Linked DNA regions of Homo sapiens: regions 1, 2 and 4 are each linked to region 3. The links come from fine-mapping of genetic effects on plasma protein levels. A gene starts in region 3. Each other region holds a variant in brackets. All regions are shown on one strand. Distances are from middle to middle.

Region 1 (8,112 bases), 15 kb before region 3:
GCTTACTGAAAATGCCAGAGTCTAAACTCCACTTCCAGAGATTCTGAGTCAGTGGGTTTAGGATAAAACAAAACAAAACAACATAAAACAAGACAAAAATCCACATGCTTTAGAAAAAAAAGGTGAGCACCTTGCTGTTTTTTATTTGCTTTTAGGAGCAGTGCATTAATATATCCAAATGATCTGCATACTCTCTCTTCTCTCCACGGAAGTCAGAATAAATTATACATACCAAGTTCTCAGCAAATACTATGTGGCTTATGCAGATGATCCCCAACTTATGATGATTCAACCTGGGTTTTTCTAGGATGGTGAAAAAGTGATAGACATTCAATAGAAAACATTCTTCAAATTTTGAGTTTTGATATTTTCTCAGGCTAGCCATATGTGGTAGGATACTCTCTTGTGATGCTGGACAGTGGAGATGAGCCGCAGCTCGCGGTCAGCCAGGCAATCACTGGGGTAAACAACCAATCTGTTTTTCACTCTCAGTACCGTATTCAATAAACTACATGAGTTAATCAACATTTTATTATAAAATAGGCTTTGTGTTAGATGATTTTGCCCAACTGTAGGCTAAGGTAAGTGTTCTGGGCATGTTTAACGTAGGCCAGGCTAAACTATCCTGTTAGATAGGCTGGGCATATGCAATGGTTTGGATGTTTGTTCCCACCAAACTTCATGTTGAAATTTGAGCCTCAATATCGTAAGTGGGGCCTAATGGGAGATGTTTGGGTTATGAGAGTGGATCCCTCACCCACAGATTAAATCACTCCTTCGGAGGTGAGTTACCATTCTATTGGTTCCTGAGAGAGTTTGTTAAGAAGAGCCCAGCACTTCCTACCGCCTTGTTCTCTTGCTGTGTAATCTCTACACATGCCAGCTCCCCTTCACCTTCTGCCGTGAGTGAAAGCAGCCTAGAACCCTCACCAGGTGCAGATGCCTAATCTTAAACTTTCCAGTCATCACCTTTGTGAGCCAAATAATCCTTTTATTCTTCATAAATTTCCCAGCCTCAGATATTTTGTAATAATCACAAAATATGAACTAAGAGAAATGGTAGCAAGAAGTGAGCTGTTGCTATAAAGATAGCTGAAAATGTGGAAGTAGCTTTGGAACCGGGCAATGAGCAGAAGTTGGAAGAGTTAGAAGGCTCAGAAAAAAAAAAAAAAGAGAGAAAGTTTGGAACATCTTAAAAATTGGTTGTGACTGTGAACAAAATGATGACGGAAACCTAAACAGTAAAGACCATTCTAAGGAGGTCTCAGATGGAAATGAGAAATTTCCTGGGAAGTGGAGCAAAAGTCACCCTTATTACATCATAGCAAAGAACTTGGCTGCATGGTGTCCATGCCCTGTGGCTTTGTGTAATGCTAAACTTAAGAGTAATGACCTAGGCTATCTGGCAGAAGAAATTTCTAAGAAGCAAAGTTTTCAGAGGATGTATAGGAAAGCCTGGGTACTCAAGCAGGCATCTGACATAGGACCATAACCACCACAAAGTGTTCCCTTCTGGGCAATGCCTAGTGAGGCTGCAGAAGTGGAGCCACTGTCTGGACCCCAAAATGGTGGAGAAACTGACAGTATGCCACTTCAGCCTGAAAAAGCCACATGAATTCAACTTCAACTTGTGGGGGCAGCCACATGGGCTGCATGCCAGAAAAGCCATGAGATGGGACTAAGCAAGACTTTGGGAGCTCACCTGTGTGCCCAGGATGAAGAACATAAAGTCAAAAGAGATTATTTTGGAGCTTTCAGACTTAATGTCTGCCCTGCTTAGTTTTGAACTTCCAAGAAATCCTTGCTTTTGGCTGATTTCTCCCTTTTAGAGTAAGAATGTTTACCCAGTGCCTGTACAACCATTATATTCTGAAAGTAAATAACTTATTTTTAATTCTACAGTCTCATGACTCTCAACTCTCATGGGAATGTGGTAGTAGGAGATTGAGGAAAAGGATTTACAGAGTCAAGTCTTGAGGCCCAGGGGAAGGCAAAGCCCAGGGAGGAGGAGCAGGAGGCCAGCTACAATGAGTCCACAGAAGACAGGGAACCATGTACTTGTGCAAAGGAAATAAGGTGAAAAGTCTATATGACCAAAAATGACCAAAGTTGCTTCTAGATAAATAACATAGTTCACATTGGACAGAAGTAAAATACTTTGTTTTACTCTTCCCTTCTCAGGCATTGTGACAGAAGGGGAAGGGAAAGCCAAATGCTTCCAAGCTTCTCTCTGGTCTGTGCATTGGCCCAGTTTTTGGGATCTGGAGTGGCTAAGTTAGCCCAAAGCGTTTCAATACAATGCTGGAGGGAGGTGAAATGCTCTATATTATAAAGTGAGAATGTTTCTAGAGTTTCTGGAAAGAAGCCAGAGAGGAGCGAATTGTATGGGCCACTTACACCAGAGGCAGGAAGCAAGTTGGTAAAATAAATAAATAAATAAATAATAAACCTTTTGAAGGTAATTTGAAGGTTTTAAAATACAACCTCAGAATTCTTTGACACTCTACCAATTGAGAGGCGAGGTCTATGTCTTCTTTCCTTGAATCTGGGGTCTGTGACTGCTTGACCAATAGAATATGATAGAAGTGATGCTGCTCTGATTTCCAGGCCCAGGTCTTATGACATAGGCTGCCATTAGCCAGTCAGCCATGTGGTGCACCATGTTAGAAGTAGATCCTCCAGCCCTAGTCAAGCTGCCAAGGGAAACCCATATAGATCAGAGAAAAGCCGTCGCTACTGACCTCAGCCCAGACTGAAGGTGCGTAGCAAAATACCTAATTTGTGTTTCTTTAAAACACACAGAAAACAGAGAAATAACTTACCTGGTTTCTAGTCTTTGTTTATGAGATAGATATCAGGAGAAGTTTCCTAGCTAGAGCTGGAGAAATTATGTGCCTTCGAGTAAGCAAATTAATAGCAATAATTACATCACTACATTTCTACTGAGGCCTACTTTGATGACATGTTTTGAACATAACTATTAATAAAAGAAAATGATACTATTCGGAGAAACAAATGTTCTGATAACATTTATATTTGTGTATTCGTACGTGAAGATGTAACCAAAGTTCTTTTTCAGCATCAATCGTCTTCATATTGATCCCAATAAAATTTTAAGATGAAAACATTAGAAAGGTAAAGTAAATGAAATACACCTGAGCAACCAAGAGGCAGAGTATAATTTGTGGCTTAGGGATCAGAAAGAAATTGTGGAGATAAAAAATTTAAAGCAATTAAATGAGCTATAAAGAAAATATAGTCTTGCCTGAGAGGTGTTTATCTTTCATCTTAGGAAACAATTTGGCTTTTTACAATTGCTCTCAATAAAGAAACATAAGCTTATTTCACCAAGGTTGACTGTCTAAAACAAATTATCTATTCCCATTTACAATGCCACCACTAATATTTAAAGACTTGTAATCTGATTGGTTTAAAAAAATGCAACAGTATGTCATTGCTCAAAAGGCTCTCAACATTTTCAGTATAATAATGACTCCTTTAATTTGACATTTGAATTTTTTAGGAACTAGTCATGAGCAATTAGGATGTGTGAAATGACAGATGACATATACCCAAGTGCTTTTTATCAAGTATTTTAATTTACAGGTATAACTCTCATTGGATACATAAAAGATACTACTGATAATTACAACAATTTCAATTTATATAAATCAACTAGACAGAAGTTAAATGTATGCAACAAATACAAAAGTTGAAAATGGTAATTTATTTTTATGATAAATGTCTTTTTCTTAAAATGTTAAATAAGGAAGCAAAGAAGAATTAGAACAGAAAGCAAACATTATTTAATTCTCATCACTGAAGTGAGAGTTGTCATCATTTGGAAGATACAATGCTTTTTTTGTGGTCAATGATACTGAGCACTTCTTATTAGGTAACATTAATCAAAGACTACATTCATAATTTTAAACCTGGCCTTAAAGAGAGTAGCAATAACACAATACCTGTACAAGGTGGCTATCCATTTACAGTCCTCTTCATAGAAAAATATTGCCAAAGTTAAGAAAACACCACCAAAAAGATTACTTGCAAATCATTCACCATTAATTTCTGATTTTTTAATGTTGTATTCATGTGTAAGCACTGCTCTGTTTATTTCCCAAG[A/G]GCAAAATATGTCATCAATAGAAATTATGCCACTCACAGGATAAATTATGCCACTGCCCACAGGATTCTCAAACTTCCTCCTCAAATAGCAAAATATATCTTCCTTCTTTCTAGTTTTTCAGCAACAATAAAGATATAATCTCTGCCAATTGCACACACACACACACACACACAATTGTCCTAGATATCTGAAGATAATACAGTGGATGCTATTAATTTCTGTATATCTATTTGTTGAACTATTAATTCTAGTGATGCTTATATCCATACTCAGATTATAGACACAGTCCTGTCACATATGTCAAAGTTTACAGAAAAAAAGAGAAAATTGATTCTTATTTGTCAGAAATCAGGACTTCAGTTTTGGATTGTCCTTCAGATGCTTCATTCGCAAGACCTTATTATTTCCAGCAATGGTTCGGTGCTTAGATTTTAAAACTTTGATCTAAAGTGGTGAGCAAAAACACAACCCTAATTATGAAAATTTATGAAATGATAGTGTCACATATGACCCTATACTAAACAAGCTACAGCAAGTTAGTCTTTAACAGACAGCAGACTAGAAGCAGGTAGTGTGTGCCACTCCCATGGAGAGAAATAGAGGGGTGAGTAAATACAGCACCTTCAGTGGAAACATCCAGGTACACTCATTAGGGTTCATCAGAAAAACAATTCAACCCACAAAGAATGGAGAAAAGAATGGCAGGATATCTCCCACCCAGGAGCAATGTGGAGCCAGGGGAGTCTCCCCAGCCCAAGGAAGTGGTAAGTGAGTGAACACTCCCAGGTACTGATGTTTCTCCCATGGATCTTTGCAACTCTTGAGTCAGGAGACCCCTTCATGAACCTATTCCACCAGGGCCTTCAGTTAGACACACAGAGCTACACAGAGTATTAGAAGAGCAGCTGCTCAGACACACATGGAGCCCCAAGTGAGCTTCCCAATAAAAGTGGCTGCAGCTCTGGCAAAATGGGAGGTTAGACCTCCATACATACCTCTAGGAAAGGGGCTGAATACAGGGGCCTGAGCAGCCACAGTCTGCAGACCTTGCTTCCATGGCACCTCACTGGATAAGACCCACATCTTAGAACTTCACTCAGCTATGGGTAGCAGTATTATACCTCCCTGCGACCAAGCTCCCAAGGGGTGTCTTGGGCCACCATCTATGCTCTTTCACAGCCTTAACTATTAATACCTCTGAGCTCTGAGGAATCCAAGACAACTAAGGACTGGAGCAGTTACCCTGGTAAAGTGCAGCAGCTACACAGAGAGGTAACCAGACTGTTTTTCCATGTGGGTCCCGGATCCTATTTCTCTTCACTCGTCAGAATCTCTCAACTGAGGTCTACAACCACCCCTGCCAGTGTTTTCCAGCTGGCAGCAGTTCCAAACCTTCCTGGGATGGAGCTCCCAGAGGGAGGGCAGGCTTCCATCTTTGCTGTTTCGCAGCCTTCACTGTTGATACCTTCAAGTACTGGAAAATTCAAGGTGATTAGGGACTGGACTGGATCCCCTGCATACTACAGCAGCCCTGTGGAAAAGTAGCCAGACTGTTTTTTACATGGGTCCCTGATCCCATATCTCCTCACTGGATGGGTCCACACAGCCTGGGTCTTCACCCACTCCCCACTGGGGCTATCAAGTCAGTATCAGCTCTGCAATTCCACGGGACAGAGCTCCCAGTGGGAGGGGTGGGTTGACGTCTTTGCTGTCTCATAGCCCTCACCAGTGCTATCTCCAGGCTCTGGAGAGTCTGTGAAGACCAGGGTCTTGTCTGGACCCTCAGTACAGAGCACTTACCTCATGGAAAGGTGACCGGACTATTCTCCATGCAGGTCCCGGTCCTCGCTTCTTCCTGGGCAGGGCCAACCAACCTGGGACTCCAGTACAACCACCCTACCCCCACCTGACCACTTCAATCAGAGGCAGCCCAGCATTTGTTTGAGGATGAAATCCCACAGTCAGCTTGCAACCCCTGCACCACTGTAGTTGCAGTGGTACCATCCTAATAGCCCTTGGGCTGGGAAAAGAACAAAGGGCCTAGTCACTACATTGGCACCTCCAGCACATCAAGGCCACCATACAGAGAGGTGCCTAGCCATTCTTTGCTGGGAACTCCCAAACCCCACTCTTTACCAGGCAGAGCTCCCAGTTCATGACCAAAGAACAGTCACCCCACCCACAGCTGAGCATAAACTACTGGTAGTGGCCCAGAGTTTCCCTGGGAAGAGGCTCCCAGAAGCATCTGACAGCACTTCTGCCACTGCCACAGCAGTGGCTCTATCCCTGCTGCCCTTGTTCTGGGGAAGAAACAAAGACCTGAGGGCTACACCCAAGCTTACAGCATGCCACAGTCACCATATGGAGAGGAGACCAGTCTCTCCTCCTGGTGAGCCATCAACCCCCTGCTCCCCAACAAGCAGAGCCTCAAGCTCATGCCAGCAAGGCATCCACACAACTGCCCTGGCTGAAACTTCCAGCAACAGTGGCTTCATGTTTCTCAGAGGTGAAGCCCCCAGGGGCAACCGAAAGCCTCTCTGCCACTGCAGAGAGAGTAGCAGTGGTACTTCCCATACTAACGAAGGAGAAAAGAACCTAAGTGCCTTATCCACAGCTCCAACAAGCAGCAGTCAACCCAGAGGAAAGAAGACCAGGTCCCATTCACCCACCCACAGTGCTTATCATCAGGCACAGAACTCCTGGCTTGAGCCTACCACACCGACCCCCATCCTGAGCTGATTACACTGATCAATTGATGATCTGCATCTCTCTGGGGCAGAGCCCCCAGAAGACAAGTAAGAGACCTCGTCTTCAACCACTGCTAAGGTAGGTCACTTCCTCTGTTGCCTTCAAGTTAGGGAGGAAACATAAACCCTGAGATCTCCCCAGAGCTGTGGTGGGCAGTCTGGGAGTACCAAGCTATGATCTACAACCAACACTCAAGTGAAAGAAGGGTCCACAGTTTCAGAGTATTGAGTACTGAGAGGCAGCTGCAACTGTGAGAAAATATAAGACAGCCACATGACTGAGCAAGAGCCTGCCTATTGACCAAAATGCCTAAGAGCCACCTACTGGATCACATCCCAAAGCTTTGACACCAAAAATACCTTGCTAACATAACCCCCTGTGAAACCAAAGACAAGAAATAAGTCAGCAGCAAATTAAAAAAGACTCTGCACAAAGCCTTAGCCCTGTGAAAACACCCAGCAAAGGAGGCTATAGACTGTACTCAATCTACACCACAATTAAAGGAACACCCATCATACACAGATATGAGAAAGAAACAATGCAAGAATTCTGGCAACTCAAAAGGCCATACACACACACACACACACACACACACACACACACACACACACACACACACACACATATATATATACTCTGATGATTATGTGTCTTGGGGATAATCTTAGTTTTTTAACCCAAAAATAGTTATTTTATATATTTATTTATTTATTTTTGAGATGGAGTCTCCCTCCATCATCCAGGCTGGAGTGCAGTGGCATAATCTTGGCTCACTGCAACCTCTGCCTTCTGGGTTCAAGCAATTCTCCTGTCTCAGCCTCCCAAGTAGCTAAGACTACAGGCATGTGCCAGCGCATCTGGCTAATTTTTGTATTTTTAGTAGAGACGGGGTTTCACCATGTTGGTCAGGCTGGTCTCAAACTCTCGACCTCAGGTGACCCACCTGCCTCAGCCTCCCAAAGTGCTAGGATTGCAGGCATGAGCCACTGCTCCCAGCCAGGCCAGAGTATGTTATGTCCTCCAAACTATCACACTAGTTCTCCAACAGGGGTTCTTAATCAGACTGATTTGGCTGAAAGGACAGAAATAAAATTTAAAATACGGCTGGAAGTGAAGATCACCAAAACTCAGAAGAACAGCAAAATCCAATAAAAGCAAACCAAGGTCTGGGTGTGGTGGCTTATGCCTATAATCCCAGCACTTTGGGAGGTTGAGGCAGGCGGATCACCTGAGGTCAG
Region 2 (8,112 bases), 20 kb after region 3:
TATCCCTGGGGTATTTTAGAGTATTCCTCAAAACTGTAAAAATCATGGAAAATAAGGGAATCCTGAGAAACAATCACAGACCACATGAGACTAAGGAGACATGTGAGCCAAATGCAATGTGCTTCTTGGATCAGATCCTGGAACAGAAAAAGATCAGTAATGAAAAAACTGATGAAGTCTGAATAGAATCTGGAGTATTTTTAACAGTAGTGTTGATTTCTTAATCTTGATAAATATAGCAGGGTAATGTAAGATGATAACGTTAGAGAAACTGAAACTGGGTGAGGGCTATCTAGGAATTCTCTGTACTATCTTACCAAATTTTCGGTAAGTCTAAGAAAGCAATGCAAAATAAAAAGTGTCTTGAAAAAAAATACAAGAATTTTATTTCTTGACTCCATGATGCATCAAAGCTTTTCTTCAGATTATCTAGTTATTCTTTCCTAGACTTTTAACCTTCAGCTCCTTTATCCCAGTGCTATATGTTTGATTTTGTCCTTTCAGATAATATCAATGATCGGGTTGTCATATCAGATCGATATGCTTATCCAGTATCAAACTGCAGTAAAAATTTCAAGGATCTAAGTAATCATGAGGCAAAGGAAAACAGGAAGGTGCAAGACCACCAATGCAGCCCCTAGATGCTATTTTTGGCTGCATCTCTTAATCTCTCAAGCAATAAATTTCCTAATTAGTCTCCATTCAAAACCTTTCAATAGGTTTCAGAAGTAATTAGTATAATATTCACGATCTTAAACTGATCTGCAAGAAGCTGAATAATGTTTTTTATATTTCCCTCTCCAATCTCACTTCATTCCACCCTCCCTCATTTCCTCTGTTTCAGTAGGATGAGCCCGTTAAATTATCTCAAATTCCTCAAGATTATTTTTACCTTATGGTGTTTGTGTTTGCTATTGCTCTGTTTGGAAGAGTGATCACTGTATTATTTGCTAGAATTGCTACTTCACATTAAACATTATTTCATCAACAGATTCTTTTGAGCACATAATCTAGGGAAGCTCCCCCCATTTTCTCTCAGAGCTCCCTATATTTCTTCTTATAGTAATCATCACAGTGTGTAATAATTCATTCCTGTGCTCAACAAATATTTATTGAAGACACTTATGTGTTGAGTATTCAATTAGGCACTTTGAAATAGAACAATTAGCAAGACAGACCAAATTCCAAATTTCATGAAGTTCACACTCTAGCAGAGGAAAGAGAAAGAAAACTCTCTTGCAAATAAATACTTAATACAATGTCAGGAAATGACAAATGCTATGAACTAAACTTGGGAAGAGGATAGAGCATAATGAGGATAGGCTGAGAGGGAGAAATGTTAATTTAAATAAGATTATCAGGTAAATCATCTCTAAAGTGCTAAATACTATTTGGAGCTTTGAATTTATCCTTTTAGTAATGAACAACCAATTGTAAGATTTTAAACAGAAGAGTGACAAAATCTGAATTGTTTTTTATGGAACAAGAGCACAATACAAGTGAGAGAACCACCAATAGATAATTTGATAGAGAAGACTTTCAGGCAAGAATAGTGAGTAAAATGTTACTGAGGTAGGAATAAACTTGGCATATTTTATTAAAGGCAAGAAGTCCATAATAGCTGGAGTAGAGGGAGCATGGTAAAGAAAATATTAAAAAGAGGTAAGGAACTTAGGCAGGAATCTCATTATATGGTGCCCTCTAGGGTAGGTAAAGAATTGGGATATTATTATAATTAAGGCAGCAAATCATCAGAGTATATTAAAGAGTGATATTATTAGATCTAATATTGTGAGAGGACAAGAATGGAAGCAAGACATCAGTTAAGATGCTATTACCAGCCGGGCACAGTGGCTCACGCCTGCAATCCCTGCACTTTGAGAAGCCCAGGCGGGCGGATCACGAGGTCGGGAGATCAAGACCATCCTGGCTAACATGGCGAAACCCCGTCTCTACTAAAAATACAAAAAAATTAGCCAGGCGTGGTGGCGGGCAACTGTAGTCCCAACTACTCGGGAGGCTGAGGCAGGAGAATGGCGTGAACCCGGGAGGCGGAGATTGCAGTGAGCTTAGATAGCGCCACTGCACTCCAGCCTGGGCGACAGAGCAAGACTCTGTCTCAAAAAAAAAAAAAAAAAAAAAAAAAAAAAGAGGCTATTCCCTAGAAAAGAAATTAAGTTAAATTGTACTAAATTATAAATATATATGTGTATGTGTATATATATATATATTATGTATCATACTAATAAAATAAAGATATAATATGATCATCTCAAAAAATGCAAATCAATGCACTTAACAAGATTTAATAGGATTTAATGAAAACAATTTTCAGAAAACTATGAATAGAAAGTAACTTTCTTATTCTAATACAGAGCATCTGCAAAATCAATCCCTGAGCTAACCTTATACTTAATAGTGAATGAGTGAATGTTTTTTCCTTTTTTTCTTTTTTTTTTAATTATACTTTAAGTTTTAGGGTACATGTGCCCAATGTGCAGGTTTGTTACATATGTATACATGTGCCGTGTTGGTGTGCTGCACCCATTAACTCATCATTTAGCATTAGGTATATCTCCTAATGCTATCCCTCCCCACTCCCCCCGACCCATGACAGGCCCTGGTGTGTGATGTTCCCCTTCCTGTGTCCATGTGATCTCATTGTTCAATTCCCACCTATGAGTGCGAACATGTGGTGTTTGGTTTTTTGTCCTTGTGATAGTTTGCTGAGAATGATGGTTTCCAGCTTCATCCATGTCCCTACAAAGGACATGAACTCATCATTTTTTATGGCTGCATAGTATTCCATGGTGTATATATGCCACATTTTCTTAATCCAGTCTATCATTGTTGGGCATTTGGATTGGTTCCAAGTCTTTGCTATTGTGAATAGTGCCGCAATAAACATATGTGTGCATGTGTCTTTATAGCAGCATGATTTATAATCCTTTGGGTATATACCCAATAATGGGATGGCTGGGTCAAATGGTAATTCTAGTTCTAGAACCCTGAGGAATTGCCACACTGACTTCCACAATGGTTGAACTAGTTTACAGTCCCACCAACAGTGTAAAAGTGTTCCTATTTCTCCACATCCTCTCCAGCACCTGTTGTTTCCTGACTTTTTAATGATTGCCATTCTAACTGGTGTGAGATGGTATCTCATTGTGGTTTTGATTTGCATTTCTCTGATGGCCAGTGATGATGAACATTTTTTCATGTGTCTTTTGGCTGCATAAATGTCTTCTTTTGAGAAGTGTCTGTTCATATCCTTTGCCCACTTTTTGATGGGGTTGTTTGTTTTTTTCTTGTAAATTTGAGTTCATTGTAGATTCTGGATATTAGCCCTTTGTCAGATGAGTAGATTCCAAAAATTTTCTCCCATTCTGTAGGTTGTCTGTTGACTCTGATGGTAGTTTCTTTCACTGTGCAGAAGCTCTTTAGTTTAATGAGATCCCATTTGTCAATTTTGGCTTTTGTTGCCATTGCTTTTGGTGTTTTAGACATGAAGCCCTTGCCCATGCCTATGTCCTGAATGGTATTGCCTAGGTTTTCTTCTAGGGTTTTTATGGTTTTAGGTCTATCGTTTAAGTCTTTAATGTTTTTTTCTTTTTATTACTTATCATTGAAACGATGATTGCATCATTTTTTATCTGGAATCCATAATCAGGAATAAGGCAAATATGTTAGTTTGTACCACTTTTGTTCTGTAAACCAAAAAGTATCTGAAACAAGTGTCAATCAATTTAGAAAGTTTATTTTACCAAGGTTAAGGATGCGCCTGTGACAGAGCCTCAGGAGGTCCTGACGACATATGCCCAAAGTGGTAGGGCTACAGCTTGCTTTTATACATTGTAGGGAGATATAATACATCAATCAATACATGTAAGATTTACATTGGTTCAATCTGGAAGGGCAGGGCAACTCGAAGCAGGAGGGCTTCCAGGTCATATGCAGATTTTAACATATTTTGAATGGCAATTAGTTGAAAGACTTATTATCAGTAGAAAGCAATGTCTGGGTTACATTAGGGTGTCGTGGGGACCTAGGTTTATCATACAGATGAAGCCTCCAAGTAGCAGGCTTTGGAGAGAATAGACTGTAAATGTTTCTTACCAGGCTTAAGGCCTGTGTTGATGTTAATGCTAGAGAGGTATAATGAGGCATGTCCGACCCCCACTTCCCACCATGGCCTGATACAGTCATTCAGGTAAAACTTCAGGGTGCCCTAGCCAAGGAGAGAGTCCGTTCAGATGATTATGGAGAACCTTTGAATTTTACTACTGGTTTACAGTTCACTATTTAAATTGTAGCCAATGCAATAAGTAAAGGAAAAAAA[T/A]TAAAGGTATAGAGATTAAAAAGGCAGAAACTGCCTTAATTTGAAAATTAAAATGATCTTGTAGAAAATCTGAAGGAATCAACAAAAAAGCTACTAGAACTAGTAAGTTTAGCAAGGTCACATGATTAAAAGGAGGGAGGGTATCTTACTGATAGAGGAACAGAATAAGAATTACAGTGGAATTCTCATTAGAAACCATGCAAGCCATGCAAGCAAAAGAAAAAACCAAGATAATGATAAAGAGGATCACAGTTTTTACTGCTGTATGCCAGGGGAGGTGGCAACAAATATAGATCGGAACTGATTTAGAGATTTGTGACACAGAACATGGCAGGACTCTGTGTCTTTAACTCTCTTATTCTATATCAAGAGCCAAACTTCACTCATCACTTTTGTTGATAAGATCTACAAAGATTGTATTGTACAGCTGAAACTAAACATGAGAAAATAATGATTTCAAAGAAGCCTTGTGCTACATACGTGGGCATTATCTCAATAAGAGCCTTCTGATCCAAATAGCTTTCAATGCACAGAAAACAATATTCATCAAAATAAGAGTATGTATCTTTCCACATGCATAAAATATATCTGGTATTGTTCTAGCAGTGAATCCATACAGGTCTGCAGCAACCTCAATTCTTGCCTCCTCAGAAGAAATAATTAGACCAATGGAGCATAAGGCAGAAAGAGAGAACAAGGCAAGTTTTAGAGCAGGAATGAAAGTTTATTCAAAATCTTTAAAGCAGGAATGAAAGTAAGTAAAGTACACTTGGAAGAAGGCCAAGCAGGCAACTTGAGAGATCAAGTGCATGGTTTTGTCAGAGGTGTGTGAACCAGAGAAACTCCATCTTAAATAAGGGCTATGTCAAATGAGGCTGAGACCTACTGGGCTGCATTCCCAGATGGTTAAGGCATTCTAAGTCACAGGATGAGATAGGAGGTTGGCACAAGATACAGGTCATAAAGATCTTGCTCATAAAACAGGTTGCAGTAAAGAAGTCAGCTAAAAGCCACCAAAACCAAGATGGTGACAAGAGTGACCTCTGGTTGTCCTCATTGCTACACTCCCACCAGCGCCATGACAGTTTACAAATGCCATGGCAACATCAGGAAGTTACCCTATATGGTCTAAAAAGAGGAGGCATGAATAATCGACCCTTTGGTTAGCATATAATCAAGAAATGACCATAAAACAGGCAACCAGCCGTCCTCATGGCTGCTCTGCCTATGGAGTAGCCGTTCTTTATTCCTTTACTTTCCTAATAAACTTGCTTTCACTTACTCTATAGACTCACCCTGAATTCTTTCTTCTCTGAGATCCAAGAACCCTCTCTTGTGGTCTGGATCAGGACCCCTTTCCTGTAACATCTTTCCAGTGACCATGAAGAGATAATACTGAGGAGACTCCCAACCCAAAGGAAATAGACTGCAGCATTGATTGGCTGACTTTAGGTAAGTGGGGCACATATACCTGGGTAAAGAATGGGATTGCGTTAGAGGCCCACTTAGGGGAGTTAGAGTCTCTCCTAAGACAGAGTAGGTTAAAAGGCTCCTCTTAATAAAAGTAAGGATGCTTGACTGAACTTGGGTTCAAGGCCCAACTTAGGAAGGTTAGAGTCCTTCCTAAGATGTAAGGGGTTAGAGGCCACTGTCAGTAAAGTCCCTTTTGGCTAAAAACAGGTTTGCCACTAGGAATGTTTACCACTATTCTCTTTGTATTAATCTGCCTTGCACTTTTTGGTGACAGCTGCGGGTGACAGAATTAGGCATGTAAAGGATCATGGGACATGGGGAACTTTTTCCTCCATAAAAGGGGAAACTTGATTGCCAAAGGGAGTACTGGAAAAGATCCCTTCTCGACTGACAAGCAGCTGCCTGAACTTTTGATTCAGTGCCAGCTGCAATGGGTGGGTCTTTCTCTGGCCTCTCTGAGCACCTCACTTCCCCCATTCTGCTGTAAGCAATGCTTTTCTCCCTTCCCCTTACTTTCTCTCTCTGTGCAAACCTGTTGAATGAATGGCAAAAATCAGTGTTTATTTTCTCTTTAAAGTTTTGATTAATGAGAAAAAGGATTTGTGAGGCTAGTCTTAAACTATAATAAATATGGTGTGCTTTGTGTGTTTTTTTGTGTTGTTCTGTCATAAAAGAGTGGTACCTTAGGATAGAATGTGGGCTTAGTACTCCCATAAGCCCACTGTTCAAGATGACCCAGCAAACTGGTCAGTTACAAACTTTGCTGCAAGTCCCTGAAAAAAAAAAAAAAAAAAAAAACCTGGATGAGGTTTCTATCTTGTCTTGTATGTCCTTGGGAATGTCACCTTGTAACCATGTGGCAGTACTTTCTCTTGGTCTCCACCATCACAATGGCAGCCCAGGTTCAGGGTTCAATTCCCAGCTTAGGGAATGACTCCTTTCTTATTCTGTCTATGTATTTATGTATGTTGTGTGTGTAATATAAAAGAGCTTTAATTAATTGGTTTAATATAAGAGCTCAAATAGAATATTTTGTCAGAAAAGTAAAAAGTGTAATATCTTTTATTTAGTTCATGTGACTTAAGTAATCTTTGGGAAATAAAGATAGTTTTAAACATTATTGGTAAAATAAAAATATCTTCAAAATGTAAACATTTGGTCTAAATTATACAGGTTAGATATTAGGTTTGCTTTAAGGTCATAAACTGCTTCTTCAACTTTCAAAAATTGTTCAATTTATTTTGGAGCATTAGATTCTATATAAAGCCTGGGGACATGCAGTTGGGCGCAGGGGCTCACGCCTGTAATCCCAGAATTTTGGGAGGCTGAGGCAGGTGGATCATGATGTCAGGAGGATCATGACGTCAGGAGATCAAGACCATTCTGGCTAACACGATGAAACCCCATCTCTAATAAAAATACAAAAAATCAGCTGGCCATAGTGGCATGTGCTTGTACTCCCTCTACTCAGGAGGCTGAGGCAGGAGAATTGCTTGAACCCGGGAGATGGAGGTTCTAGTGAGCCGAGATCGCACCACTGTACCCCCCTCTGGGTGACAGAGAGAGACTCCATCTCAAAAAAAAAAACAAAAAAACAAAAAGCCTGGGCACATGTTAAATTAGCCATGTGCCCTATCTATGTAAACAAGGTTATAAAGAAAAGAGATTTTATATAAGAAAATATCTTGTATGGTAAATTCTTGTCTAAAGTAAAATAACTGGTTGTTTAAAAAGAGGGATGTTTAGGACAAGTCAGAAAGCCCAAGCACTTCGTAGATGGTCTGGTTAAGTCATGAAAGAATTTATAAAATAGAATTTATGAAAGAAATGTGCAATTTAAAGGTGGCTAGTCCTCTTAAATGCTTCATAAAATGCCACTATGACTCTTAACTGTACAACTTGCCTACTTTACAGCTAGGTAAAGCCTGAGACATGTGGAGTTAGACATTGGAAAAAGTCAGACCTTATCTGCACTTCTATCTGGATCCTAGGCTCTACATTTAGTAAACAATTAAAATCCTAACTTACCAAGGTTTTCACCATAAGTAAACGTTGATAAGAGTTAACATTATAACATGTAATTGAGACTACTGAAGAAAAAGTTTTACATGAAAGGTGTACAAAGAAAGTAAAATGTGTTTTCAGTTTAAAATAAATTATAAGAAGTCATGGGAATGTGACTTGTTTTTTGCCTAAAGGGTAAAGGATTGTTTGAGTTCAGATGAAGCTGAAGCTTTAAGCAAGTTGTGAAAGGTTTGTGAAAAATTAATTGTAAAAGAAATTCTGGGTGTGAACATATT
Region 3 (8,112 bases):
CACCTGAGTCTGTGCTCCTTAATTTATTGGTGAGGATACAGAAAATGAGAGATGCTCAATCATTTTGTTAAAGTCACCCTGACAGGCTTTGATAGAACTGCACCTTAAACACTTGAATTTCTGGTTAAACTATGATTGTTTCCTAAATACCTAAAACAAGAAAGACTTCTTATAAAGACTCCTGAATTGGCAGTTCAATCAAACAAAATGCATTCGTGGAAGACTTTTATGTACTCAGGAAATACCAGGCTTTGGAAGGGATAATAATACAAATGTTAATAATTCCATTTATTGAGTGTCACATGCCAAGCATCGCACTAATAGTTTAATTATGTATTCAGTACATTTTTATACACAAATTATGCTTTTCAGTCATTAAAACCAACGTATGATATGAAAATTCACATTTCAGAGAAGAGAAAACTGAAGCTCAGAAAGGATTTCTCAGACCTGGCAATTTCCAAAGACTGTAATCAGTAAACTATAGGTAGTTGGTAATAATGGGGAAGTAAAAGTCATAAAAAGCTGGGTCAAGAGTTCAGCTGTAAGGCAGGGATCCCAGTTGCCCTTGTAATAACTAGTCAGTTTTGGGTGGTCAGTGTAGAAATCCCAGGAAGGCAGCATTCAGATGTTGTTGTATCTAAGATGAGAGAAGGGCTGACTAGGAAGAGATGGAAGCTGTGCTTTATTTATTCATATTATAGACAATCTGGTTACACTGTACTAGTCAAAGCATAGGAATAGAAGAATAATTTTAAAGAGTAAGAAAAGGAGCATTCCTAAAACAAAATGTAATGATTAATAGCAACAGTCGCTAAGAGACTCATTGATAAGTTTCAATAGAATAGTGGGAATAGATTAAAATGTATATACAGGAACAAACTATTTGCTCTTTTAAGATGGAACTTAGATATCCAAATAAGAGCTGGAAGACACTCACTGCTAAAATTGGGAGACATGGATCATGAAGGGCCAGCAATGACCTTGGGACACGTAAATACAGAAAAGACAACCTAATCATGGGAAATGAGAGAACAAAGGTGACTAGAAACAGCCATTTTGGACACTTAAGGTCAGATTGAAGTCAGTCTGTCAGTCCAACGTGTGTATGGTATTTTGTGACCCAAAAAGACCACATATACTTATTTAGCTTAATAATAAATGTACCAATATTTGACAAGCAAAATGCCTTCTACATCATGGTGCATCTAGTGGTCATTTAGTCATAACTCAGTAAAAAGTTAGAGAAAAACTATCAAGTTTGAATAATGAGGCAAAAATATTTTTCCTTTTTATACTGTTTTGTGTCTACTTATGGTAATTTCTCACAGAACTGCCTATAGCTTAGTAAGTCAAACCATGTCCTAAAACTCAAGTGCAATCCCACAGCTTACAAATATTAGGGGTAGGTTTGTCTAGATACAGAAGAAAAGTGCATAAAGTGGGAGAGAATTAACACTGGAAATACTTACTACATGGCAGGCAGCTTACATATATTATGTATCACAATTAAATACAATTAATATTATTCCCATTTATGATAAATATGAAAATTTACAATCAGAATAATAATTTCCTAATAAAGTAGGTGCTGTGGCTCATGCCTGTAAGTCCAGAACTTTGGGAGGCCAAGACAGGAGGATTGCTTGAAGCCAGAAATTCGACACTAGCTGGGCAACATAGCAAGACTCTGTCTCTACAAAAAAATTTAAAAAATTAGCTGTGTATAGTAGTGCACACCATGGTCTCAGCTCCTTGGGAAGCTGAAATAGGAGATCCCTTGAGCCCAGAAATTCAAGGCTACAATGAGTTCTGATCTAACCACTGCACTCCAGTTTGGATGATAGAGTGAGATCCTGCTTCAAATAAAATAAAATATGATATAAAATAAAATAATAAAATATAAAAATTTCCCAATACACATTGGTATAGAAATTTAGCCCATTTCCATTAAAACAGAAATATCAAGCTTTTAACAACATTCTACACCACTAAGTAGAGAAGAGAATGGGCTGTGGATGCTTCTGGGTCTGGTCCTTCCCCACAAAATACATTTTGCCACAGAAAGAGGATTGTGTAGAAGGTTGTTCCATGGTGATTTTTTCCACATAGCTGATTTGGTTTATTGAGAGCTTCCACTTCACATGTTCATAAAGTAAACAGATTCTAGGAGTTACTTGGAGACATGGCAGCAAATGGTTAACCATTTTTTAATGGTAAAATCTGACCTGAGTTTCTGAGTTCTCAACTCTCTTATAACAGACATTTAGAAGTATCCAATTCTTGAACTCAAAATTAACTATAATTTTAAAATGTGCCTATTGTGTAGACATTGATCTGTGATTATACATTTTGTCACATTGATCAATAAAGCTAAATATAAAAATGAAAATGAACAGAAACTATTGAATTATGCACCACAAGGTGCAATCTATATGCCAATATGAGCATGCAGAAATGTCTGCGTGCTATGTATATGCTACTTGTGATTTATTAATTTATACTTCTTTATTTATATAAACTCAATATTTAAGATTATTGTATTTTAGAATCAGAGGAAATCTGAAATTGTTAGTCCACCCCACTTCATTATTGTGCTATGGAAACAAGCCTGGAATGATTGACATCTTCCATAGATGAACAGAACCAAATAATGATAATTTAGCTTGGAGATCAATATTATCTTTAATTTTATACAACCAGAAAATACAAGTAAATACAGCACATCTTTGAATATAGAAATACCAATGAGTTATGGTGTGTTTGGCCATTGAGTTCTGAAAGTCACTGTGGCCTTGTATTTACAAACATTAAAGATAAAATTATTATCCAAAACAGTAATGTCCAATAGATTATTAATAAACATTTTAGATAGCTGTAAAAAACATTGTGTTCTCTAGAGTTCATAAAAATTATGAGCTTAATTTCAATCCAACAGAAATAATTCTGAAAACTCTAATGTTGTGATGCTAATAATTGGGCTAAGAATTTTCAAACTATTGACTGGCAAAAACATGGATAAATTGTAATATATGAACTTCAAAGAATAAATGCACAATTACAAAACTTGATATAGCAATTTATTTTTAAAAGCCATTTGAGGAATCACCAAATAATTTCAAAATCATGACTAGAAAACCAGCAATGAAATTTGAGACTACTGGTATGACAAATCCTGTTTCAGGCCTTGTTGATCTAGAGTTACTTGCACAACCAGAATTTGCCAAAACAGGAAATAGGTGTTTCATATATACGGCTCTAACCTTCTCTCTCTGCACCTTCCTTCTGTCAATAGATGAAACAAATACTTCATCCTGCTCTGGAAACCACTGGTAAGTGATAACTCCTTTATTTCAAGGTGAACATTATTTATTTCAAGGTGAACAACACATTTATACCTTATCAATGATAAAGTGATATATTCGTATATTTTATCTACAATTTTCCAAAGTTTATTGATAACTTTTAATGAGAGTAATTATCTTAATATATTCATTTTAAGCTGAGAAGCTAATACATAGACAGCTTTATTATTCCAAAAGCACTTTTATCCAGTTTGAAATTTAAATAAATTTTTACCTTTCATTCTAAAGTAATATAACTAATTCCCATGTCTATGACTTGTGGAAACAATTGTACTAGAACTATTTTTAATAGAAAAATGAAAAACTATGAATATATGTGTGTGCATACTTTCACATCAGTAACTTTTACTAATATTAAAACATACAGCTATATGGGATGCCATAGCAAAAGTTTTAAATTGGTCAAAACAAAATTATAGCACTGATCTCAAGATTAAAAAGTATTTTATTAAAGACCATCAACATAAAATGCAATTTACCTCATGAAATGCACTCAGATCAAAAACAAAAAAAAAAGGCTTTTAGAAGTTTTTCAGTCAAAAGTCAGTCTACTCAGTCATGTTTATGTAGGTAATTTAAATATAATATCTATCGTGCATATTTCATCTAAGGAAGCAATTTCCACATACGGCTTTATCTTCCGTAGCATATTAGAAGTGATTCTGAAGAGTCAGATAGTAGGAGACCACAGAACTACCTAATGACAACATGAAAGGGGTTATTTACCACTAGACAGAAGATTTTAAAGTAAAATGCTTTTCTTCCCTGTGGCTAAATGCTATCCAGGAAACTCTGGGAGTATTTGCAATAGCCATAGAAGATCCGGTGTTGCCTCTTCTGCTAGTTAAAACCAAATCTAGAATGTCTGCCTGTATGACTAAGACCTCTGAAAGTGGATCAAAAGAAATTAAATTGATGACAAGTTTCAAGCCTGGGAGTTACCCTACATTGATAAGTTATGAGGTAAATTGGGGCTTCTGATTTGTAACAGGCAGGGATGAATTGGGAGGAAGAGTGTCAGAATTCTCAAGTAATGTAAATCTGATAATTGCTATGAATTTCAGTTACGTTATTTATTGAATTCAAGTAAAAGGGAGGGAATTCATCCTTGAAAAAAAAGTGCTTCTCAAGAAATGCAAGACAGCTATTCTTATTTGGATATCTTTACGAATTTCTTACTTGATGAAGTCTAGCAGTTTTGCAAACTTTGCATATTGGCATAGGCTGCTTTCTGTATCACAGATACATAATAAGATGAAAGAAAGTGATCAGAATAAAGATTAACTATTAAATTTTAAGTAAGAAAATATTGCATCAAATACTTTTCTGTGCTGTGACTAGTTTATAAATGTGTCTATACCTATAGTGCACACATTATACTCACATGTGTTAATGCTTTTGACATCTTTTCTAATCCACGTAATCCTTTAAAATATTTCTATAGTCTGTTCTTCCTCCTTTGCTTTTTAATGTTACGATGTTTGGTCTGTCTCTTAAGTTTTGTATTTTCCTCCACCAGTTGATTTATCTGTTCCTACAATAATATTAAATTTTTGTCAACAAATGTTTGAAGTCTATCTTAATAACTAATATGAAAAGATAACCCAATTAATTCTTTCTTTTTTTTCTTTTTCTTTTCTTCTTCCTTTTTTTTTTTTTTTTTTTTGAGATGGAGTCTTGCTCTGTCGCCCAGGCTGGAGTGCAGTGGCACACTCTCGGCTCGCTGCAACCTCCACCTCCTAGTTTCAAGCAATTCTCCTGCCTCAGCCTCCCCAGTAGCTGGGATTACAGACATGCACCACCATGCCCGGCTAACTTTTGTAGTTTTAGTAGAGACGAGGTTTCACCATGTTACGCAGGGTGGTCTCAAACTCCTGAGCTCAGGCAACCCACCCTCCTTGGCCTCCCAAAGTGCTAGGATTACAGGCATGAGCCACTGCGCCCAAGCAATTCTTCTTTTAAAAGTTTACTCAGTTATTCATAAGCCACTTAAAATTTGTATTGGAATTAAAGTAAACAATTATCAGGTTAGTTTAGGATTGATATCTTTATGCTAACATGTACCATTTAAAAGCATTACAAAACTCTCAATTTATTCAGAACTTCTGCTATGTTCTTTATTAAAGTTTTAAGATTTTTTCCAAAAAGGATTTTTAAATTTGTTTTGTTGTTTCCCAGATACTGTATAGTTTTTTTAACTGTTATAAGTGTTTCTTAAATCTTATATTCTAGTTGAGTGTTTCCAGTAATAGAAATGGTATTTTTGTAAGTTGATAGTGCATCTAGCAAAATTGTTAATTTTGGTGTGTTCTCCAGATAGATGATCTTATCATTTGAAAACAATAACAATTTTACGTCTTCTCTTACAAAAGTTACAAATATTTTATATATAATAATATATTTTATATTATTATATATAACATAAAATGTATACATTACATTACTTGTATATATTATATATATATATATGTATATACTTTCTTTTCTTATGGCTTTGATTAGGATCTCTCCAGTACTGTGTTAAATAAAAGTGTTAGTCATTCTTTTCTTGTTCCCAATATTAAATGAAATGCACCTAGAATTTCTCCAATAACCATTATATTGGGTATAGATTTGCAGTATATGCTTCCTACCAAAGTAATGATCTCTTCTATTTTTTCTTTAAAAAAAAAAAAAAAAAAAAAAACTACATACAGGGGTTGAATTTAATGACGTATTTTTTGTCATATTACTTTGCTTTAGTCTGTTAATGTGATGAATTTTACCAATGAATTTTCTAATTTTGAATTATTCTTGCAGTCCTCATATAATTTTACTTGGTCATGATATTTTTAATATATTTTTGAAATTGATGAGTTAATATTTTGTTAGGATTCTTGCAATTCATTTATGAAGTGGGCTTATGTATTATTTACTATTATTCTTACGTCTTTTATGAGTCAATCCCGGAATTATATCCACTCCTCAGATTACATTTCAGGAAAAAACAGCATTGGGAGGAAGTAGTCAAGCTAATTTGAACCATACAACACTAGGGAGTAAGAAGGCGTGAGTATAAGAGCACTGGAGAGTGCTATCACACATGACCTTATTATCATTGGTTCTTCACACAGGATGGTACTTTCGTTTTTTGTTTTTTTTTTTTTGGTGGTTTTTTTTTGTTTGTTTTTTTTGTTTGTTTGTTTTTTGTTTTTTGTTTTTTTTGAGACGGAGTCTCGCTCTGTCGCCCAGGGCAGTGGCGCGATCTCGGCTCACTGCAAGCTCTGCCTCCCGAGTTCACGCCATTCTCCTGCCTCAGCCTCCCGAGTAGCTGGGACTACAGGCTCTCGCCACCATGCCCGGCTAATTTTTTGTATTTTTAGTAGAGATGGGGTTTCACCGTGCTAGCCAGGATGGTCTCGATCTCTTGACCTCGTGATCTGCTCACCTCGGCCTCCCAAAGTCCTGGGATTACAGGCATTAGCCACCGCATCCAGCCCCACACAGGATGGGTCTTACAGTTCTTCGATGCTACTTTGCTGACACATAGCACTAGAGCAAGCGTTTTTCTGTTGTTGCAGAATTTTGCAAATAAAGAGGAATCGATTGTTTTGAGGCAAGAGTAGAAACTAACAGGCATTACTTTAGACCAACCACTGCTGTTGGATGCAGCACTCCCCTCTCCTTCACATTCACTATACACAACACACACACACACACACACACACACACACACACACACATCCATATACACATTCTAGAAGTCATGAGAGACTTTATTCTCCTCAGATTTTCTCACTATCTTTTCAGTATTTTCTTGGAATCCCTGTTTCCCTCTTGCTTCTATAATTTTTTCAGAGTTAATTTTGGGGTGGCAGCAAGAAGCTTGCTTATTTTGATATTGTGCCTGAAATAAAAGCCAAAGGCTTGCTTTATAAATAGACCATTTGATTAATTCTTCTCTTAGCACTAAGCAAATTTGTCCTACTTCCTAATTTGCAAATCCTTATTTCCACAAAATGGACTGTTAAAGCCAGATATGCCTATAGAAGTTTTTGTAGATATATGTTGTCAGTCAATATGCAGTGATATCAGGTCATTTGATAAAATGATTTCCTTTTCCAAGGGAGTGTTTCAAACATACCAGTGGTCCTAACATCAGTGTGAAGAAGGCACAGTATGTTACAGTTTAATTGTATTATATACATTTATGCTTCAGAAAGACACAATTTGCTCTGCTGTAGATCTGGAATTAGTAGCAAACCATCACTATTTGAAATCATAAATCTTTGAAATCCAGGGACTTGGTTTTTCTCTAATCACACTTGAGATAAATTATTAATTTCTTTGAAAAAGGAAAACCAGAACAGAACAGAAAACCATATAAAAGGTAGGACTCAGTGACTTACACATAGCAAAATAACTCTTTCAAGTGAAATGAATTAAGAGAAATCTACTGCTTATTTCCAAGGAATAGTAGAAAATAATGTATAACTAATACACTTAGAAATTGCTTCATGGAAGTGAATGACAGGAGAGGCTATTTTTTTTTCATTCTTTCTAGTACCTTCTATGTGACGCTACTACTAAATGGAATTGCAAACAAATCATTTTCCACTTGCACCTGCTATTTACAGTAGTCCCTTGGGAGGAGAGGTGGGGATGGAGTGAAATATTACAGCGACTCTCTGTCACCATTATTGGTCTTAAAGCTGATGTTACATCTTTATCATATTTATCTCATTCAAGTTGTTTACTCCCTGAGCCC
Region 4 (8,112 bases), 59 kb after region 3:
GTAATGAGATTCAAAAATGCATTTTTGTGGAAATAAGGTAATGTAAAGCAGTCATTTTGGAAAGAGGCTCTCAGCATAGACATTAATGGTATTCAAAATTTTCTACAAAATTTAGAGGCAATCCCCACTCAACAGGTAACATTAACAGAGTAAGATCTGTTTTCGGAATATTTTCTCATCACAATATAATGGCTTTTTGGCCTGTACCTTAAAGCCCAATTAGTTACCAGCTAGGTTGCTAGTAAATGCCCAGTGACTCATTTGTGGCAGATAATATTTTAATGTATTTTCCTAATTGAAAAAAAAAGCATTTTTATTTTGTATTTTATTTGTATTTATATTCTGTATATTTCCCAGTTGACTAGCCTTAAAAAATAAAAAAGAAACATCCTTATCTTAAAGTCTTCTAGTATTAACAGAAGAAGCACCACATAACACAAAAACAAACACGCTTTTCTAAATACAAGGAAAACTGAATCCTGTTCAAGCTTTTCTCCAACTGTAAATATGCATGTCACTTAATTTTTCAGAACCATAGTTTTGTTAATTTGTTTTAAAGATGTAAAACTAAGAGTGAACAGTAAGACTTTGCTTGTCTTAGGACTCATCCATTGCAGGTTGACCTCCCAGAGATGGGACTGACTTCCTTCAAAGCTCCATGGCAACAAGCTATGGCCCAGTGATTGAGACAGTTTCTCAAAACTTGAACATCAGTCCCTCGGCATATCAAAGGAAGGGCTGGTATTTCCCCAGTTGTGAACACAGGTGTGCCTAATACTGTTGTTTATTTGTTACGCCATGTGACTTTAACCATCCGGCTTAGATCCCAGGCCTCTGCTGCATCAGGGGAGGGGTAACTGTCCCCCAAGCCTGCCCCAATCCAGAAAGCAGAGGTACCACAGTGGAACTGAAGCAAGGTTCATTTCACTTCTGATCCTCGCCCCTGAGTACATGAGAGGAGAAACCCACGTTGTGTGATCGTGAAACTTAAAGGCTCCAGGGCTCAAGGATGGAAATCTCTAACAGTCTCATGTCTGAACCTACTGTATCTCTTCACACTGACCCAAATGGTGATGAACAACAGATTAACCCTCTGACCCCTCCTCTATGAATTTTCCCCAGTAATCCCAACTCCAGCAGTTTTGGCATGGGTACTGTGTGGTCATTTGCCCTTGTTCGCATGACAAGAGTTTTGTGCGAGAACACTGAATTTCAAGATTCTAGGAATGAAAAGTTTCTGCATAGAAAATTTAGAAGCTCAATGTGATGCTTCCAGTGATGTCAAAGGACAGGAAGAGTTAGATAATATTACTCCTGGCAGAAAGTGATGTAAGAAAAAGAAATTTTTAGTAGCTTGAGAATGATTCATGCTTTATCAACGTTTATACTACATATGCTAGTTCATATTTATTTATTGAATATGCTAATACATTAATAAAACATTTCACTTAATATTTTATACATTGTATATTTGTTAAGTATAAGATTAAAATTAAAGTTTTAGGCTTATAGACAGTACTGATAATTGTATTTAAAAATTAAAGGCTTTTTTAGGCACATGTGCACAATGTGCAGGTTTGTTACATATGTATACATGTGACATGTTGGTGTGCTGCACCCATTACCTCATCATTTAGCATTAGGTATATCTCCTAACACTCTCCCTCCCCTCTCCCCCCATCCCACAACCATCCCTGGTGTGTGATGTTCCCCTCCTGTATCCATGTGTTCTCATTGTTCAATTCCCACCTATGAGTGAGAACATACGGTGTTTGGTTTTTTGTCCTTGAGATAGTTTGCTGAGAATGATGGTTTCCAGCTTCATCCATGTCCCTACAAAGGACATGAACTCATCATTTTTTATGGCTGCATAGTATTCCATGGTGTATATGTGCCACATTTTCTTAATCCAGTCTATCATTGTTGGACATTTGGATTGGTTCCAAGACTTTGCTATTGTGAATAATGCCGCAATAAGCATATGTGTGCATGTGTCTTTATAGTAGCATGATTTATAATCCTTTGGGTATATACCCAGTAATGGGATGGCTGGGTCAAATGGTATTTCTAGTTCTAGATCCCTGAGGAATCGCCACACCAACTTCTACAATGGTCGAACTAGTTTACAGTCCCACCAACAGTGTAAAAGTGTTCCTATTTCTCCACATCCACTCCAGCACCTGTTGTTTCCTGACTTTTTAATGATCGCCTTTCTAACTTGTGTGAGATGGTATCTCATTGTGGGTTTTTTATTGGTATTTTCATTTTGAAACCAGAGAGGGAAATTTGGCAATATCTAACAAAGTTGCATGTGCATTTATCCTTTACTCTACCAGTCCTTTAGAAATGATCATTAATTCGCTTCTAGCAATTTCATATTGTTGTTCCAAGAATATGAAAATACATATGTGCAAGATTATTTATTAAAATGTTATTTGTATTGGAAATAATCTATACATACACAAAAGGCAGGTTAAATAAACTACAATGCATCCACACAATTGATTATTATGCAGCTTTTAAAATGAATAATAAGGATATTTATGAGCTGATATGGACGTATCTTCAGTATATATTGCTAATTGAAAGACAGCGAAGAGCAAAACATTTTTATAGTATTCTACTTTTTGTATTAAAAAATGATAAATACAAAAAATATATGGCTTCACATTTTTGCAAAATGTTGATGCAACATAGAGTATACTAGAAAGTATTGACACTAGTATACCATGGGTGGCTGAGAATGGGGTGGGCTGGTTGGAGGATGACAATGGTGTAAGAAAAAATGGTTGGGAGGAGTGATATTTCTCTGGGTATTCCTCTTTGTATAGTTTCAGCTTGTGAATTATATTAATGTCTTACATACTCATTAAAATAAAGTATAATTAATATAATTAAGAAGTGGGGGAAAGCCCAAAAACAGGATAGAAACAAAAAACAAACTATATTTCAAATAAATAATCACAATAAAAAGTGGGGGAAAAAACAGCCGACCTAATGAGTATTATAATGCCATATTCCTTCTAGGTAAAGATAAAAACTGCAAACAAATGTTTGACTCCAGTCAATAAAGTTGTGTTTATTTTTACCATAGACACATGAGTTAGTAGTTCTGAAACTGACTATATATGTTACGACTGAACAAATGAATAAATACATTATGAATAATGAGAACCAGGTTTCTCACTATTAGAGAAGGGATTTAAACATATGAGAAAGGAGAATGTAGGAATAAACCCTGTGGTGTTCTATTGAAATTGGTGGTATCGGTATGAATTTATGGTTTTTAACATACAAAGATAAACAGAGCTGTCAGGGAAATACCAGTGAACAAAGTGAGTCCCTGCCTTCATCAGTTGATAATTTTAGAAGTAGGAAATAAGGACATAGACATCTCCAGTCACTGCAGAGACAACCTTTCCTTAGGATCATAAAAATGATTCATAAAATGATACAGTGTAACACCAAAGGG[C/T]GGAAATGCTGTCTTACGACTTTCTAAAGGAACACAGTGTGACTTTAAGTTAGAGGAAATTTCAGAAAACACCATTTCATGCTGCTCATATGAAGTGTCCATCTTTATCACTGCAGCATTGGTGGCCAGTGGCAAAGGCAGTGGGGGCTGATGAGGCAATGGCAGCCATGGGAGGCATCCGGGGAGCCCAAAACAGAAACTCATTTGTGAGACCTGGAACTATTGGCAGTGTGCTCACAGAGTTCCCAGGCATCAGAGTCCTTAGCATCCCAGAGCTGTGAAAGAGGCTGGAGTAGAGAGTAACAAAAGGGGATATGCTACAGAGGAGATGAAAGTTCTGTTAGTATGCATGCAAAAAGTCTCTATGAGCCAAAGGATACCCAGTACTAATTGACTGAAAGTTTAGACTTTCTGTCCCTTTCAATAGTAGGTAGAGGGGAAAACTATATAAGTGTGTGTATGTATGTGGCACACAAATCCAAACACATCCACATATAAAAACAATGAGAATGATCTTAAACCCCATGGTATTGAGAAATATGATTGTATAAGATACCCCTAATTTACATGTTAAAATTTTAATGCCATTGGATATTGATTTATTTCAAATTAAGTAGATTTCTTTTTTAAGTTAAGTATGTAAGATATTCAAGAGTAAGAGGTACTAATGATACTCAATACATTTTAATTTTCTTCTCTGCTTCCCCTTAGCACTGCAGAAGTTAATTAGAAAACATACTGTATCCCAGGGGCCATGCTGAATTCCTTATATAGTCGGTCCTCCATATCTGTGAGTTCTACGTCCATGGATTCAACTAACCACTGATCATCAAAAATAGTAGGAAAAAAGTACTATACAGATGGTTGCATATGTATTGAACATGCACAGACTTTTTCTTGTCATTATTCCCTAAAAAATACAATATAACAATTGTTTGTATAGGATTTAAATTGTATCTGGTATTATAAGCAATCTAGAGATGTTTTAAAGTATGTGGGAGGGTGTGTGTAGGTCATAACAAATGCTACACCATTTTATATAAAGGACTTGAGCTTCAGTGGATTTTCGTATCTTCAAAGGGTCTTAGAATAAATCCCCCATTGCTACTGAGGGACGATTATATTCATTTTTGCACTTTATCCTCCCAATATTCCTTTCTCTTTATTTTACGGATGAGGAAACAAGGATAGGAAGATTAAGTACTTTGCCCAGATACAATCAGCCAAGGAACATCAAAGCATGTACTCAGTACAGATATAGTAGGACTCAAAGTCTTATACTTTTAAGCACTACCACAATTCTGCTTCCTGATGAAAACTAAAATTAGCTCATAGCTTGAATGAAAAATATATTCAAACTGGACATTTAATTTGAAAATAAATATTTCCTTTATATAAAGCTCTTAGGTAGATTACTTGTTCTGTATTCATGAAAATGTGTTCACTTTTGACAATGTGACATTTAAAACCTTTAGTTCAATGGTAGTCAGGCTTAGAATATGTCTTTATAAATTACATAGTGACTTAGTCCTATCAACTTCTATATATATATATATATATATATATATATTTTTTTTTTTTTTTTTTTTTTTTTTTTTTTTGAAATGGAGTCTCACTCTGCTGCCCAGGCTGGAGTGCAGTGGCATGATCTCGGCTCACTGCAACCTCCATCCCGCCAGTTCAAGTGATTCTCCTGCCTCAGCCTCCCAAGTAGTTGGGATTACAGGCGCCTGCCACCGTGCCCGGCTAATTTTTGTATTTTTAGTAGAGGCGAGGTTTCACCATCTTGGTCTTGAACTGCTGACCTCGTGATCTGCCTGCCTCAGCCTCCCAAAGTGCTGGGATTACAGGCATGAGCCACTGCGCCCGGCTGTTTCTATTATATTAAAAACCCATAATTATAAAAATGGTGACAAGAAATGGATTAAACCTTGAAGGGTCCTGGTTGGGTGAACATGAAGGAGCCCTTTAGAGTGCTATTTACATAGGTATACACATGTTTAGAAATTAAATGAGCTATGCAATTAAGATTTTGTGTGCTGTATTGTATACACTGCATGTCTCTATTTATTTATTTATTTATTTATTTATTTATTTATTTATTTTGAGATGGAGTTTCACTCATGTCGCCCAGGCTGGAGTGCAATGGCGTGATCTCAGCTCTCTACAACCTCTGCCTTCCGGGTTCAAGCAATTCTCCTGCCTTAGCCTCCAGATTAGCTGGGATTACAGGCACATGCCACCATGCCCAGCTAATTTTTGTTTTTTAATAGAGATGGGGTTTCGCCATGTTGGCCAGGCTGGTTCTGAACTCTTGACCTCAGGTGATCCCCCCTTTTCGGCCTCACAAAGTGCTGAGATTACAGGTGTGAGCCACTGTGCCTGGTAACCTCAACTTGAAACAGGAAGAAAAGAAGGGAGGAAGGGAGGAAGGGATGGAGGGAAGGAGGGAAAGGAGGAAGAGAAGGAGAGAGGGCAGGAATGAGGGAAGGGAGGGAGGAAGGAAGGAAAAAGAAGGAAGAAAAAAGAAAGAAAAAGAAAGAGAAAAAGAAAGAGAAAAAAGAAAAAGAAAGAGAAAGAGACAGAAAGAGAGAGAAGAAAGAAAGAAAAGAAAGAAAGAAGAAAGAAAGAAAGAAAGAAAGAAAGAAAGAAAGAAAGAAAGAAAGAAAGAAAGAAAAAGAAAGAAAGAAAAAGAAAGAAAGAGAAAGATGGAGGGAAGGAGGGAGGTGGGAAGGAAGGAGAAGGAGGAAGAGGAGGAACAGGAGGAATAGGAGGAGGAGGAGGGAGGGAGGGAGGGATGGGGAAGAAGGAAGGAAGAAAGGGAAAGAGAGAAAGAAAATAAATAGATAACTAGAGTATGTTATATGGTTGCTAGAACTAAATCAGGTGTTCAGTTTGGACATGTTGAAAGTGTAGGCATAGAGAAGACAGTTGAATATATAAGGAGGGATTTAGTCTAAAATGGAGATAAAGATTTGAAAATCATCTTTGTATAGACGGCACCTAAAGCCACAATACCACCTGAGATTCCTGGGAAGTAAGTGAAACAATATGCTAAATCCCAGAATTTAAAAAAGTTTGTGAAAATAAGAGCAAAGGTCCACCAAAAGTGTCAAAAACAAGAAGATGAGGAAAGGATGAAATAGTATAGTATAGATGCCAGAGAGACAGATGATTATTTAACTTTTATTTTTTATTACTTTATTTCACGGAGATGGATCTTTAAACTCTACAGCCTGGCACAATTATCTGAAGGAGAAAAAGAATGATCTAACCTGTGAGGACATAGTAAATAATTATTTAAATGCTTGGGGGATATTAAAAAACATTTCAAGGTGATCATGAGATCACTGTCAGTTAACAAGGAATAATGACAAGGAGGAAAGCAACATATTGATTAACATATGACAAATGGAAAGGGCAAAAAAAAATCTTGAAGCTGGGCATGGTGGTGTGCACTTGGAATCCAAGCTACTTAGGAGGCTGAGATAGGAGGATTGCTTGAACTCAGTAGTTTGAGGCCAGCCTGGGAAAAAAATAAAAGAAAACTTTGGCATTAATCTATGAGAAATTCCTCCAATTTAAAGTGATTTCATCATTTTTAAACCATGATATTATATGTAAAACAGTAAAATATAATTTTTAAATTTGCTACACTAAATTTGTTTCTTTTTGATAGTTTATAAATATAAATCAAAATTGATTCTGTTTTATAAATCTATATGTTATTGCCCACATTTAATCTAAAGTTTCAGCAGAATTCATTAAGTACTTTGTTCAAATGTGGGTCTATATACTAATATTATTATGGATATCTTAATCTAGTTGAAAAAATGCTTAATCTAGTTGAAAAATTACTACAGGGCTTAGTAACCAAAACAGCATGATACTGGTAAGTACAAAAACAGATAAACAGACCAGTGGAACAGAATAGAGAACCCAGAATTAAGACAGCACACCTACAACTATCTGATCTCTGAGAAATCTGACAAAAACAAGCAATGGGGAAAGGACTCCCTATTCAATAAATGGTGCTGGGGTAACTGACTAACCACATGTAGAAGATTAAAACTGGACCCCTTCATTAGACCATATATAAAAATTAACTCAAGATGGATTAAACACTTAAATGTAAAACCCAAAACTATAAAAACTCTGGAAGACAACTTAGGAAATACCATTTAGGGCATAGGCATGGGCAAAGATTTCATAATGAAGATGCCAAAAGCAATTGCAACAAAAACATAAATTAACAAATGGGATCTGATTAAACTAAAGAGTTTCTGTACAGCATAAGAAATTATCAACAATTAAACAGACAACCTACATAATGGGTGACAATTTTTGCAAACTATGCATCTGACAAAGGTCTAATATCTAGCATCTACAGGAAACTTAAATTTACAAGAAAAAATAAAACCTCATTAAAAAGTGGGAAAAGGATATGAACAGACACTTTTCAAAAGAAGACATTCATGCAACCAACAATCATACCAAAAAAGTTCAACATCACGGATCATTAGAGAAATGCAAATCAAAACCACAATGAGAGACCGTCTCACACCAGTCAGAATAGCTGTTATTAAAAAGTCAAAAAATAACAGATGTTGGCAAGGTTGTGGAGAAAAGGAATGCTTATA

Which allele goes with the higher level. Alleles are on the strand shown, and positions count from the first base shown. The strength of an association depends on the size of the effect and on how common the allele is.
With allele A in place of G in region 1, the plasma level of the protein whose gene starts at base 3,275 in region 3 is higher (strong association).
For the plasma level of the protein whose gene starts at base 3,275 in region 3, T is the low allele of the variant in region 2 and A is the other (strong association).
For the plasma level of the protein whose gene starts at base 3,275 in region 3, allele T in region 4 goes with a lower level than allele C (strong association).

What was found. PIP is the chance, under the fine-mapping model, that this variant and not a neighbour inherited with it causes the effect. Protein levels are from antibody-based Olink assays in UK Biobank. Linkage for the fine-mapping came from a reference panel and not from the study's own genotypes, which makes the PIPs less certain.
Region 1: its variant is fine-mapped to the plasma level of the CRISP3 protein (UK Biobank, PIP above 0.99).
Region 2: its variant is fine-mapped to the plasma level of the CRISP3 protein (UK Biobank, PIP above 0.99).
Region 4: its variant is fine-mapped to the plasma level of the CRISP3 protein (UK Biobank, PIP above 0.99).

The regions. Positions count from the first base shown.
Region 1 is chr6:49,754,825-49,762,936 of GRCh38, reverse strand. No RefSeq gene overlaps it. Among named protein-coding and RNA genes, the nearest start is that of CRISP3, 14 kb to the right of the region's middle. The variant A/G (reference allele first, on the strand shown) is at 4,126.
Region 2 is chr6:49,719,638-49,727,749 of GRCh38, reverse strand. It overlaps CRISP3 (cysteine rich secretory protein 3), which reads left to right. Exons shown (of 8, transcript NM_006061.4): 8 at 1-374. Among named protein-coding and RNA genes, the nearest start is that of CRISP2, 10 kb to the right of the region's middle. RefSeq lists a silencer at 7,488-7,688. The variant T/A (reference allele first, on the strand shown) is at 4,340.
Region 3 is chr6:49,739,551-49,747,662 of GRCh38, reverse strand. CRISP3 (cysteine rich secretory protein 3) reads left to right here and starts at 3,275. Exons shown (of 8, transcript NM_006061.4): 1 at 3,275-3,332. The coding sequence starts at 3,296.
Region 4 is chr6:49,680,625-49,688,736 of GRCh38, reverse strand. It overlaps a transcript of CRISP2 not described here. Among named protein-coding and RNA genes, the nearest start is that of CRISP2, 29 kb to the left of the region's middle. The variant C/T (reference allele first, on the strand shown) is at 3,473.